Homo sapiens: one gene and its partner. The protein of the gene in region 1 purifies or fractionates together with the protein of each later gene. This does not show direct contact. Each region holds a gene or a part of one and is shown on either strand. Other genes may lie near its edges.

Region 1 (7,098 bases):
GTTTTCTACTGTTGTTAAAGGACACAGGGTCTTGCTCTACCACCTAAGCTAGAGTGCAGTGGCACAGTCATAGCTCAGCTTTGAACTCCTGGGCTCAAATTATCCTCCTGCCTTAGCCTCCTGAGCAACTGGGGATTACGGGAATGAGCCTCACCCAGCTTATAGTTACAAGTTACATTATTTCTAAAGACTTCATGGTTTTTTTTGTTGTTGTTGCTGTTCTTTGTTCTTTTTTTAAAAAAAGAAAACAACAACAACAAAAAACAGTATTTCACTGTGTTGCCCAGATGGACTCAAACTCCTGGGCTCAAGCAATCCTCCTGTCTCAGCCTCCCAAGGAGCTGTGACTACAAGTGCATGCCACCATGCCTAGTTGGATTTCAGAGTTGTAAAGACCAATGGAAGTAGAAGAAAAAGCAAACTTGACTTTCTTTTTAAAAACGTAAAACATACGTTGGATGCTGCATCATCCTCCTCCTTTGAACTTCCATCCTCTGCATCACTTCATGAGGATGCAGTCTCTGTGCTGGAGGTGCTGTGGCTGGAATATGGTGCGAAATTGGCTGGTGTGTAGGAGGAAGATGCTGAGGGATTGGTGCAGCTGTACTGGCTAAGTGAGTTGGTGGTGGGGGTGCCACAGGATGAGATGTTGCATGAGAAGATATTTGAGAATGGAAAGCATGTACAGGATGAGGAATAACATAATCCACTTGAGGCGGAGGCTGAGTCTGAGGAGGGGGGTTTCCATGAGAATGCGGGCAGGCAGAAGCTTGATGATGAAGTGGCCTTGTCAAAGAGGCATCTGCAAGAAAAATATTTTGAGTATGTTACATAGGCACCATGCAGTTGAACATATATTGCTATTATACATTCCTAGTGTACTTTTAAACATATTAGTATTTTATTTTTATGAATACTTTATCAAGTAAAGTATTCAAGCAACTGCTCAAGCAACTTGCTCCCTTCTTACAATAATCTTGGATATCTTATGTCAATATATATATTATAGTTTAACTTCACTCACAGCTTCACAACATTCTATTATATGAACACACCAAAATGTACTGACAAAATCCCCACTGATAAAAAAGAAACCCAAATGCTATGATAAATATCTGTGTATATGCTCACTCCTGCACTCACTCTTTCATTTACACACATGTATACACACATATATAGAGATCATTTCTGTAGCATAAATTCCTGTAAGTAGTTGTGGGACAGAAAGAAAAAAATAAATTTAGATGCCAGTTAATAAAAATACCCTTTCCAAAAGGTTGCCATAATTAATATTTCCATCAAGAGTACACAGGAAGGGCCAGGCACCGTGGCTCACACCTGTAATCCCAGCACTTTAGGAGGCCAAGGTGGGCAGAGTCACCTGAAGCCAGGAGTTCGAGACCAGCCTGGCCAACATGGCGAAGCCCCGTCTCCACTAAAAATACAAAAATTATCCAGGCATGGTGATGCACACCTGTAATCCCAGCTACTAGGGAGGCTGAGGCAGGAGAATCGCTTGAACCTGGGAGGTGGAGGATGCAGTGAGCTGAGATCATGCCACTGCACCCCAGCCTGGGCGACAGAGTGAGACTCCACCTCAAAAAAAAAAAAAAAAAAAAAAAAGGAGCACACAAGAAGGCCTGATTACCCCCACATTACCACTAAATTTTTAAAATAAATGCCAATCTGAGAAAAATCTTTTATTTCTTGACCGCTTGTATGTGTTCTCAGAATTATCTATTTACATGCTTAGCCTATTGTATTACTCACCTTTTTCTTATTGACTTGTAAGTATTATTTGCATATATGGAAGCTCTGTCATAATAGGGTGTAAACATTTTTCCAAACTGTCTCTCTCTCTCCCTACCCCATGTCATTATTCCTGTGCTACATTAAGGTGAAGGAGACCTATTTGTTTCCCATCAAATATGGACGTAAAGTCCTTAATAAGATGGCTCCTACCATTTCTTCATTCTACATCTTTATGTTTCAAAGTGACTGCTGAAAAATCTCTCTGAGGAATACACATCTTCCTTACTCTTAGAGATGTGCATCTACTTGACATGTAAAAAAAAAAAAAAAGTTTGTCTTAGATTTCAATACAAATTTCATTTTATTGGAAGATGTTCTTGGAAGTCTGATATAGACCAACAGCCATTCTCTAGTTTCATTACAGAAGTTTTCAATTTTTAATGCTTTTGATTCATTCAGCAAGGGCAGAAGTTAGGTAACAATAACTCAACTATATTTTCAAAGTATGCCTTGTTAGCATGTACTTAAAGGAAACTTTCAACAAATCTAATTTTTAAAAGTTGCAAGACAAATTTTTAAACCAATTTTCTAAAAGTTCTGTTTTCAAATCAATGCTTTACTCTTCAAGAAGGCACAAAGCTCAGTAGCTAGCTCTTAATCATAAAAAATGAATCCACTATGTTTTATGATTGTTAACTATCCTTTCTCAAATTCACAGCATTTTTTCTAGTTGCAAAGTTTTATATTTGTGTAATCATTATACAACATTCACAAATATTACAAAGCAAGAAGTTTTGTTTCAGAATGAGTCCATTTATTTAACTACTCTTTAGACATCACTTTAATTCACTGTTTAAACAAAACAGGTTGCTGACCATTTTAAGAGTGACATATTCCACATTCCCAAAAACCCTTTCCCTTCCTCTATTTGTGTTCCCAACAGTTAAAAAAAGTTCTTGATATTGTTTCCTAGACGTTCAACATATCACTTGCAGATGTAATACTATGCTTTATTCCAACATTTACTCACTGCATTCCCATAGCTTTACAGTGTAGACCATTTGCTTTATGATTAATCGTAAGTAGCCTTACCTATACCTCTCTTTTTTTTTTTTTTTTCTTCTTTTGAGAGGGAGACTCGCTCTATCGCCCAGGCTGGAGTGCAGTGGTGTGATCTCAGCTCACTGCAATCTCCATCTCCCAGGTTCAAGCAATTCTCCTGCCTCAGCCTCCCGAGTAGCTGCGATTACAGGCACCTGCCACCACACCCGGCTAGTTTTTGAATTTTTAGTAGAGACAGGGTTTCGCCATGTTGGCCAGGCTGGTCTTGAACTCCTGACCTCAGGTGATCCACCCGCCTCGGCCTCCCGAAAGTGCTGGGATTACAGGCGTGAGCCACTGTGCCTGGTCTTTTTTTTTTTTTTTTTTTTTTTAGAGACAGGTTCTCACTATGTTGTCCAGGCAGGAGTACAAGGATTGTTCACAGGTGTGATAACAGCACACTACAACCTTGAACTCCTGAGCTCAAGCAATCCCCATGCCTCAGCCTCCTGAAGAGCAGGAACTACATGCTCATACTACCAAGCCAGGCCTTACATATCTTCTCAATACATCTTATTAATAAGATAGTAAAACTTTTAAATAATAGCATTTCAAGTACAGTTGTTTTATCACTTCATCAAGACCACAAACCTTTCAAAAGCAGAGAGAGACATATTCTTACTCCACAAGTATTGTTGTTATACATATAAATGTACTTATGAAACAGCAAACTATTCATCTGGATCCAAGTATCACAATTTATAGCCAATAGGAATTATTCCCATTTTACAAGTGCAAAGAATGTAAGGACAGAGAGATTAAATAACTTATCCAAAGTCACCAAGCTAATTAGTCAGAGCTGGGAGGTCAACTCGAATCTATCCAATTCTAAAGCTAGTGCTCTACTATGCCATATTGTCTTCCCCAGTTCATTCTGGATGAAAAAAGGTTTAAGAACCACATGTTTCACACGTGAACTAAAGCATACGGGAAATGTTTTTTAAAAGCACGGGCAAGTTGGGGAGAGAATACACACACTCCTTCAGGAAAAGAAGCCCAAAACAGAGTTATCAAAATGTCTCTAACAGAAAATAATACAATTTAAATTTCCTACCTTCATTCTCATTAACACACTCCTAATGAGGTGTGTAAATTGATGCAGCCCCTTGGAGAGAAAACTTAACAGTATTTATCTGAAAGTTTAGCCCTCTGACATAGCAATCACATTTCTAGGAAGTTAAACTATACATAAACTCAACCATAAACAACTTTAATGTCCATCAACAGAAGACTGATTTAATATACAATGGATATTATGGGGGTATTAAAAACCAATGAGCTAGATTTTTATGTGCTAATATGCAAAAATCAAAATATACTGTTAAATTTAAAAACAAAAAACAAGAAGTAGAATATGTTTGATTTCCCATTTTTAAAAGGTAAGACATATACCTATCTATGTGTACAAAGAAAATTTCTAAAAGTTTTTATAGAACAGTTACTACCTCTGATATATTAAGATTAGTAAGCTGTGCGAGGAAGCTTTTAAATTCTCATTTTATATGACTGCACAGTCTGAATGTTTTAGAATATAACAAATGAATCTAAAACATGTATTTATTAGGACATTTTGAAAGGAATGAACTTACTCATAAACTGCTTCAGTATATTATTTTTAAAGGGGAGGGGCAGAAAATTAAGCATATTGAATTTCAAATAAAAGATGATCAATCAAAAATGAATACCATCAAGTATTACAAAATAGGCCATGCATCACACTGGTGCTCATACAAAGAATTGGCCCATTGGTCAATGCTTTGTAAAAACTTGCTAAATGTTTTCCAATTTATACTTTAAATTTTAAGTTGCATTACTGAGAAGGTAAATAATATATCACCAGTTTCACTGTACAGATTCTGGGTTGATTCCAGCTGCGTCTGCACGATGCAGATTTTTTTAAATGACTGGAGTAGAAGAAAAAATCCAAGAAGATATGTAAGTGAAAATTACCACTTGCCATGTAATCAAAACAAAACACAAATTTCCTTGCTGACTTCCTGGTTCATTTCCAGCATGAATTTTTGGTGTTTATCAGCCAAGTGTTTATTAAGCTTTCATTTCATTATTAGCTTATGATCTAACAAAATAGTAAATATGTTACATAGCCTTAGAGTATTTATCATTTCTTGTGATATCTAACGAATTTCAATTTCTTTAGAAAAGGCATGGCTGGTTCTATTTTATTTTTATAGAAACGGGGTCTCACTATGTTGCCTAGGCTGGTCTCAAACTCCTGGCCTCAAGCCATCCTCCTGCCTTGGCCTCCCAAAGTGCTGGGATTACAGGAGTGAGCCATCATGCCCAACCATGGTTATATTTTAATTGCCTGCATCAAATGAATATAAAAATCCTTTTACAACTCCCAAAGCTTGCTGTTATGTCTCAGCTAACTGCTTGAGAATTCTTAAAAATTTACTTTACTGTGCCTAGAAATACTACTCAACTTTCACATTTCTTCAGCTATACTAAAGAACAAATCTAAATTCCTTAAAACTTCCATTCAATCCACCTCAATTACATAATACTAACATGGGAAAAAATATACCCTACTCTTAAGCCAAGTAAATACTAAAAATTTAAGAACTGGGATTAAAGGTTATTTCATAAGGAAGTACAAAATGCTTCATTGACATGACTCTAGATTTTGTGTCCACTAAGTATATACTTACAAGGGGGTGGCATGTAATGTCGACATGATGAGAGAGAGGGCTGTGGAGGGGGCTGGGGCTGGGGCTGCGCAACCATGCTTGATCCATAGCCATCTATTGATGATAAAGGTTGACTTGGGGCAGCAGCAGCGGCCTGATGGCCAAAGATTGCAGCTCGGGAGGAAGAAACAGGGCAGCAGGGGTCAAATGCAGATGCTCCATGAAAACTGCCACTTCCATGACTTCTGATACCACTGTTGCTCAGGTCCACTGGCAATGCCTGCTAGATAAAAAGGAAGTATATTTTATCTTTCTAAAGTTTGGTCAAATATTTCATGTTATATTATAAAAGTATTCCTAATATAACCAAAAAAACATAATCTTTAAATTAGTTTGAAACCAGGAAGATTCTTAGTATGAAGAACCAGTGAGCACCAACAAAATACTTGGTTATCTTGAATATAACAAGTGTATCCTGGATTGTGAAAACTGTAGTGGTTTTACAGTTAAACCAATTTTTAAAAATCAAGCATAAGATTTTATCACAAGATGAACAAAAGTTTAATATATTAAAATCTTTTTGTCTTATAACAAATACATCTTAGAAACTTTAAAAATCATACTTCTATATTCTCCTTTATCCCAACATTGTGACTAGTACTTTAGGACTCCTTGAGAAAACATACTATCACACTACTGAAAATATTAAGGTTCTAGGAAAAATCTTGTCTGCCCCAAGTTCCAAACTGTATAAAGCAAGAATTCAATTAAAGTGCTAATAAACAAATCTACATTATTCAAAATAACAATGGACATAAGATTTTTCAGACTAAATCATGAATTACCTTTGCCACTCAAAGCTTTCACTTGTTCAAAAACATAAGAATAAAAAAAGTTAAAGCACTGCTTCCTTTTATAGGCATATTTATTGCATTTTATAGGCACATTTAGTGCTTTGCAGATGTTCGGGGTTTTTTGTTTTATTTTTAATAAATTGAAGGTTTGTGGCGACACTGTGTCAAGCAAGTCTATCAGAGTTATTTTTCCAACAGCATGTGGAAACTCTGTGTCTGTGTCACATTTTGGTAATTCTCTTAATATTTACATTTTTCTCATTATTATTTTATCTGTTATGGTGATATTTGATGAGTAGTCATTGATGTTACTATTATAATTGCTTTAGGCACCAAGAACTGTGCCCATATAAGACAACAAATTTAACAGATAAACATGTGTGTCCTGACCAGATGTTTCCCCATTACCCTGCTCTCCTCTCTTTGGGCCTCCCTATTCCCTGAGACACAACAACATTGAAATTAGGCCAATTAATGGCCTCTGGTATTGAAGTGAAAGGAAGATTTGCACATCTCTCATTTTAAACCAAAACCGAGAAATGATTAAGCTTAGTGAGGAAGGCATGTCAAAAGCCCAGAGAGGCCAAAAGCTAGGCCTCTTGCACCAGTTAGCCAAGTCATGAATGCAAAGGAAAAATCCTTGAAAGAAACTGAAAGCACTCCAGTGAACACACAAATGATAAGAAACTGAAACACCCTTATTGCTGATCTAAAGAAAGTTTTAGTGATCTAGATGGAAGATC
Region 2 (7,000 bases), 8.1 Mb from region 1:
GCAGATGATGCCTGGTGTGTCCACTGCGCCAACATGGGGCGCTGTTGGGAACCCACTCGGCTGCTGCAGGCTTGGAAGCTGCTGCTCCACAGGCTGGGAGTTTTTGCCCCCAAGGCTGTGCAGAGCCAAAATCTGAAAGCCCTTTTAGGGGCAGGGATTAATGTGGGTTACTCTGGGGACCTTGCAACAGAGGCTGAGAGGTGACTGTGCAGGAGGTGTGGCCTGCCCCACAGTGAGTACACGCAGTGGCTGTCCCAGGTTCATCCAGGTACTGGGTGGCCCCTGGTCCTCTTCAGGTTTGGCCCAGCCCCTCCTTGAAGACTCCTTCCATCCAGTCAAGGCCAAGCAGGCGGGGCAGGGCCTTTATGAGCTAAATAAATAAATAAATAAATAAATAAATAAATAAAAAGAGAAATCAATGGCCCTTTACACACAAGGCTGATGGAATCTCCTCCAGACACCTGAGCATCTTGTTCTGGTGGCTCTTGCCAGTTTTATACGATAAAAGGCATGGGGTAGGGAGATTATAATCCCTCTGAAATGCGGGGAAATGGTTTTCCAGAGTGTCCATGGGACCCCATCGAGGGAGCATGGGGCTTGGGACACCCAATGACCCAGTAGCCCACCCTGTGTCCACAGACCTGCAGCCAGTTACCTACTGCGAGCCGGCCTTCTGGTGCTCCATCTCCTACTACGAGCTGAACCAGCGCGTCGGGGAGACATTCCACGCCTCGCAGCCATCCATGACTGTGGATGGCTTCACCGACCCCTCCAATTCGGAGCGCTTCTGCCTAGGGCTGCTCTCCAATGTCAACAGGAATGCAGCAGTGGAGCTGACACGGAGACACATCGGTATGGGGTGGCTCCATTCCCCGCCCCCCCACCCTGCCCCTGCCACTCTATCCCACCCCCAGCCCCAGGCCTGAACACACAGCCTCTGAAGGGAACCTTGCGTCCATCCTTAGCTGTGCTCTGCCTCCTGCTGGGCATGGGGGAAGACTCACTGCCCCAGCAAGTCCCCTACACTCTCTGTTGCCCTGTTTAGGGGCCAGACAGGTAGTGTTCAGGCCACTTGATCATTCCCACTCAAAGATATAATCTCAGAAAATCTGGAAGCCACAGAGGAAAATAGTTCATCTAAGGGATCAAGAAGGGAACGTCTATGAGAAAGGCAACATATGAAATCTATTTTTTTTTTTTTTTTGGAGACAGAGTCTTGCTTTATCCAGGCTGGAGTGCAATGGCACAATCTTGCCTCACTGCAACCTCTGCCTCCTGGGTTCAAGCGATTCTCCTGCCTCAGCTTCCCAAGTAGCTGGGATTACAGGCACCCAACCACCACGCCCAGCTAATTTTTGTGTTTTTAGTAGAGACGGGGTTTCTCCATGTTGGCCAGGCTGGTCTCGAACTCCTGACCTCAGGTGATCCACCTGCCTTGGCCTCCCAAAGTGCTGGGATTACAGGCGTGAGCCACCGTGCCTGGCTGAAATCCTCTAAATAAAAATACTCTGAAAGTACAGATGGATAGGTTGATAAGTAGGCAGTCATTGTTGGAAGAGTGATCTTCTCTTATTTTCATGTATCATTATTCTAAACAATTTAGAAAAGGTAGAAAAGAATTGTCCACTATCCAAACACCACTACTGTGAACCTTCTGCCTTCTAGCCCCCAGAACATAAGTAAAAGATGACTTTGTGAGTTTAAGGAAGATGAAGCTGTGTTACGCATCACTTGGTTTGCTTATGAAGTTATCAAGCTTAGAGGATTTTACGATCCAGAATCACAACTGTCAGAACTTAGAAGGGCTGTAGAGAGATGGCAGAGTGAGGTTTTCTCAGACCTTGTCCTGGAGCCCCAAGGGTTGGCAAAGGGTTCCTGCGGCAAACTCAGGAGGTGGGCAGGTTAGCAAAGGGAAGCCTGGTCCCACGTGAACCAGGGCACCTCTGCACTCGCTTGCTTTATATCTCGGGCTCTCACAGAAGACTTCATTTGAAGAGAGGATTGATTCTGTAGTGAAGAGAAGAAAAGTTTGGAGGCCATGGGCCTAGGTCTGTGCTCTCATTTTCTAGGAAAGGGACCTGATGTCTAGGGGGTTGGGGAGGGTAGGGAACGGCTCTGCAGAGACCTCATTGTCAGTGACAGACAGCCACCACTACCAGACCTGTTGTTCCCATTTCGCTTTTTGTTTTTTACTTCAAAAAAGATACTTATTCTGGGTGGCATACCACTGTTTGATTGATTGATTGATTTAGAGATAGGGTCTTGCTATGTTGCCCAGGCCCAGTCGCAAACTCTTGGGCTCAAGCTATCCTCCCATCTCAGCCTCCTGATTAGCTGGGACAATAGGCATATACCACTGCAACTGGCTTTTTTCTATATTTTATTAAAAAAAAAAAAAAATATATATATATATATATATATATATATATATTTTTTTTTTTTTTTTTTTTGGAGCGGGGAGACCAAGTCTCGCTCTTGTCTCCCAGGCTGGAGTGCGATGGCACAATCTTGGCTCACTGCAACCTCCACCTCCCAGGTTCAAGTGATTCTCCTGCTTCAGCCTCCTGAGTAGCTGGGATTACAGGCATGTGCCACCACACCTGGCTAATTTTTTGTATTTTTAGTAGATATGGGGATTCACCACGTTGGCCAGGCTAGTCTCGAACTCCTGACCTCAGGTGATCTGCCCGCCTCAGCCTCCCAAGGTACTGGGATTACAGGTGTGAGCCACCATGCCCGGCCTATTTTTTTAAGTTACTGAAACGAAACAAACATTTTTGGTCTGGGTCTTCGCATCCCCACCTCTGCCTTCTGCTCTTACTGACATGATACAGTTGTGGACAGCCAGGAAGTCATCCCTCCTGTGGACTCTGAGCCACCAGCACCCTGCAGAACTAAAGCCAGAAAAAATGGGGAGTGGTTGGAGGAAGGGGACAGTAGTGGGAATAGGAGGCAGGACAGGGGACATCCAGTGATGCATGGGTCGGTCACCTCGTGTTCATCCTACCGGATGCTGGGCCTGTAATATCTGGCTCCGTGTTCTGACCTCTGAGCTTCTTCCCCAGGAATGGAGCAGAGACTTTGCCATGCAGGAGAAGGGACCATCCCCTGGCCGAGCAAAGAGCTCATTGTCAGAGTTTACGCAACTGTTTGAGTTGCAGAGCCAATTTAAAAATAATTTCTGTCCATCTGGAGTGGATTTAAGAGATGAAAGAAAAGTAAATGATATAAACCTCTGGAATGTTTTAGAAAAATGCATTGAGGGAAGAAAAAAATAAGGGCATAGCGTTAAACCATCCCTGCAATAAAGGGCTCCTTGGGGTGTCTGCTGCATCAGAAGGAGCCCTGCAGGTTTACTGAATGAATCTCTGAATCTTGGAGTGTGAAGAGACCAAATAATAGTGGGGTAGTAGTAGCAGTAGCAGCAAGAAAAGCTGACACCAGGCACTTACTGTGTGTCTCACAGTAATCCTGCAAGGGTAGAGGTTATCATCATTCCCTTTTTTTTTTTTTTTTTGGAGTTAGGGTCTCACTCTGTCTCCCAGGCTGGAGTGCAGTGGTGTGATGGGAGCTCACGGCAGTCTTGAACCCCTGGGCTCAAGCAATCCACTCACCTCAGCCTCCCAAGCAGCTAGGACTACAAGGATATGCCACTATGCCCAGTTAATTAAAAAAAAAATGTTTTTGTAGAGATGAAGTCTCATTACATTGCCCAGGCTGGCCTTGAACTCCTGGCCTCAAGTGATCCTCCCACCTTGCCCTCCTAAAGCTCTGGGATTATTGGTGTGAGCCACCGCGCCTGGCCCCCATCCCTATCGTAGAGACAAACGAAGACTCAGAGGGTGAATAACTTGACTGAGGCCCATGCCTACTCAGTGGCAAAGGCTGTCACTGAGACCTATCCTGTGTGCCCATCTCTTGTCATCTGCCTCCCTTGGCTTTAGGAATCCGGCAGTGCCCATTTCCCCTACTTTAGGCTTGGGCTTTGGGGCCCGTTTGCCTGGGGAAGCTGGCAGTCACTGGGAGCAGCTCTGCTGTTCTGCCTCCTTTGCGAGCCTCAGGTGGCCCCAGGGCCATTGTGTGTGAGCAAAGGCACCCTGTCCAGTCTAACCTGAATCTCTGTAGGAAGAGGCGTGCGGCTCTACTACATCGGAGGGGAGGTCTTCGCAGAGTGCCTCAGTGACAGCGCTATTTTTGTCCAGTCTCCCAACTGTAACCAGCGCTATGGCTGGCACCCGGCCACCGTCTGCAAGATCCCACCAGGTAAACGAGCCGCACAGGCACCCCTGCCTTGAGGTCCCTCTCCGAGTGCATGCCTAGGATGCTGGAGAGAGTCCACCTTTCTCACCTTTTCTGCTCACTCATGATTGCGTTGTCAATCTGGAGGTGATTGGATTAGGTTTTCTCTATGCCCACAGATCTAACTGTGCTTTCCCTGAACTTCCAGGGAGCAGATGTAGCATCTGATAGGTCTGCCTTTAACCTGTGGGTACCTGCCTGTTGCCCTGTGCGTAGATGCTCAGGCAGTATGGCTTCCTTTCTTCACTCATTCATTGCACAAACAGCATGCAGGGCTCTGTGCCAGGTGCTGTAGGGGATGAAGAGGTAGATGCGGCCCTGCTCTGCCCCCGCAGACCTTACAGGCCTGCAGAGCACAGAAGACAAAGACACGGATGAGTTCAATATAAGGGACGGGTGCCAAGCACCAAGCCAGCAGCCCAGGTAGAGAGAAGGCCCATTTAGCTGTTGGGATGGATCAGGGAAGTCTTCATGGAGGAGAAACATCCGGATCCTGAAGGATAGGTAGGCACTAGGCACAGGGAGGGCATTCTAGACAGGGGGAGCAGCCCAGGCAAAGGGCCTGAGGTAATGGAGGGCAGGACATGGATGGGTAGCTCTCTGGCTGGAGGAGGGTCATGTATGAGACCGTCAGGGGAAATGTTTCAAAAGCACAACAGCATGAGGCCGTGGAAGGACACCAGAGAGTTTGACTCTAGGGAACTGCTGAGGGTTTTCTGAGTGAGCCTGAAAAATCCCACCTGTACCCCAAGAAGAGGTGTCAGGCTGCACCCCCGAGAGTGGTTTGGACAGGGCCACGCCTGGACAGCAAGATCAGGCAGGTGGCTGATCCCATCTAAGGCCTCTTTCCTCAGGAAACCAAGGCAGAAAGCCCCAGCCAAAGTCCACTTTTCACAGGACGTGCAGCCACTGTGTAGGCAGCCCACAGAACATGGCCTGTGACAGACTAGTGGAGCAGGTAACCTGGCCAGGCCATTGCCTGTGGCACGTGTGTGGCATGCCCCTTCCTGCCCACTGAGTAGCAGATGGTAGTGGAGAAGTGGTAGACCACAGGCAGGGGAAACTTTAGAATGCAGAAAGTCTGAAATGATAATAGCACACCAGGTTTCCAGAGCATTTTGTGGTTGCATTTATAGAGTACATTCCGATCGTTGACCTCATTTAGTCCTCACCAGTTATTCTCTGGCTCTATAAGTAAGGAGACGCTTTGAGAGACAAGTTCAGAGAGTTTCAGCCACCTGCCCAAGCGCACACAGCTAGTAAGTGGCCAAGCCGGGATGGGGCCTAGGGCTGATGGACTCTCAAGTTTGGTGCTCTTCTGCTTCTTGGCTCTGCTGGGGGTCAGGGCCCAGGTTCAGCCCTGTTCCACCACCCTTGTCCTTGGAGAGAATGAAGAAGAGGAAGCTCAGTGACGCTCTTGGCCTTCTGCCTCTTCCATTCCCCGGCCCCACCCCCATCTTTTGGGTGAGGGCTGAGTTGGCTGTGGTGTTGTTTGTCAGCTCATAGAATGTCAGAGCTGGAAGGACCTCTGAGGCCAGCCCTTCATTATACAGAGACACAGGGTCCCCAAGAGAAAGCGACCAGCTCAGAGTCACACAGCAAGAACAGGAGCCTGCTGTTGGCTCATTCATAAGCGTCACCCCGGCTCACCTTTTGGCTATTTCCAGCATGTGCTTTTGTCTTTATTTTTCTGGTTGACACATTCCTGGCACTCAGGCAGTAAGACTTCAAACGACATTTATTTTAAACTTTATTTGTGACTGTCTTTAGTTTTACTGTCTGGAGAATCAGATGCACACCTTCACTTAGCTGTGAATGTCACCTCCACCCAGCCCAGTGCCCAGAGGCCAAAATTTGGCCCAGATCTCTCCTTACCTCCTAGCCCCAGCACCAGGTGTATTCATCAGAGGAGCCCAGGTGGAGGGTGCACTGGGCCCTCTGCCAAGCTTCCTGTGGGGACGGCAGGCCCAGTAGCCTTTCGGCCAGCCCGTCTCTGGGGGCACTGCCTGCTGTGGAACGGCCAGAGCTCCTGTTCCTAGGTGGGTGACCAGACCCCACACAGCATGGGCAACCTGGCCCAGGTCCCTTATCTCTCTGTCCCCTGGTCCCTTTGCCCAAGGAAAGGCCCCCCTCTCCACACCATCTCCCTATTTTTGGAAGCCCTCTTTGCAGACTTCTCCCTGCTCTGGGAGTCGGAGCTTGTGGGCCAGCCTTCCATCTCCCCTTGCAGGTATGTCAGTGGCACCTCCCAGTGAGGAGATGGGTTCAAGGGGAGGGACTGGGTTGGCCTTCCCTTTGCATGGTACTGAGTGTGGAGTGTGTGGCAAATGCATCACACACCATGTGTCCCTGGAGCTGTATAAATGAGGCTGGTCTAGGGGGTCCAGGACTTGCTTTATCCAGGAGGGGAGCAACGGACCTGGCCACTTCCATCCCCACAGCCCTGTTTCTGTGTTTTTGGCAGGATGCAACCTGAAGATCTTCAACAACCAGGAGTTCGCTGCCCTCCTGGCCCAGTCGGTCAACCAGGGCTTTGAGGCTGTCTACCAGTTGACCCGAATGTGCACCATCCGCATGAGCTTCGTCAAAGGCTGGGGAGCGGAGTACAGGTCAGTTATGGGTGCTGCCTACATCAGGGGACCCAACTCCAGGTGACTCTGGACAGCAGAGCAGGCAGGGCTCCTCAGAGATGAGCTAGGCC

Evidence for each region. The genes of interacting proteins can lie anywhere in the genome.
Region 2: the proteins of RNF111 (region 1) and SMAD3 purify together in Homo sapiens (affinity purification with western blotting; 5 studies listed by BioGRID). This does not show direct contact.

The regions. Positions count from the first base shown.
Region 1 is NC_000015.10:59,074,640-59,081,737, reverse strand, and holds part of RNF111 (E3 ubiquitin-protein ligase Arkadia), read right to left. Parts: intron 5,785-7,098; coding exon 5,523-5,784; intron 803-5,522; coding exon 454-802; intron 1-453. UniProt on the Homo sapiens protein: E3 ubiquitin-protein ligase. Required for mesoderm patterning during embryonic development. Acts as an enhancer of the transcriptional responses of the SMAD2/SMAD3 effectors, which are activated downstream of BMP.
Region 2 is NC_000015.10:67,180,602-67,187,601, forward strand, and holds part of SMAD3 (mothers against decapentaplegic homolog 3), read left to right. Parts: intron 1-639; coding exon 640-852; intron 853-4,125; coding exon 4,126-4,263; intron 4,264-6,418; coding exon of another isoform or gene 6,419-6,529; intron 6,530-6,763; coding exon 6,764-6,908; intron 6,909-7,000. UniProt on the Homo sapiens protein: Receptor-regulated SMAD (R-SMAD) that is an intracellular signal transducer and transcriptional modulator activated by TGF-beta (transforming growth factor) and activin type 1 receptor kinases.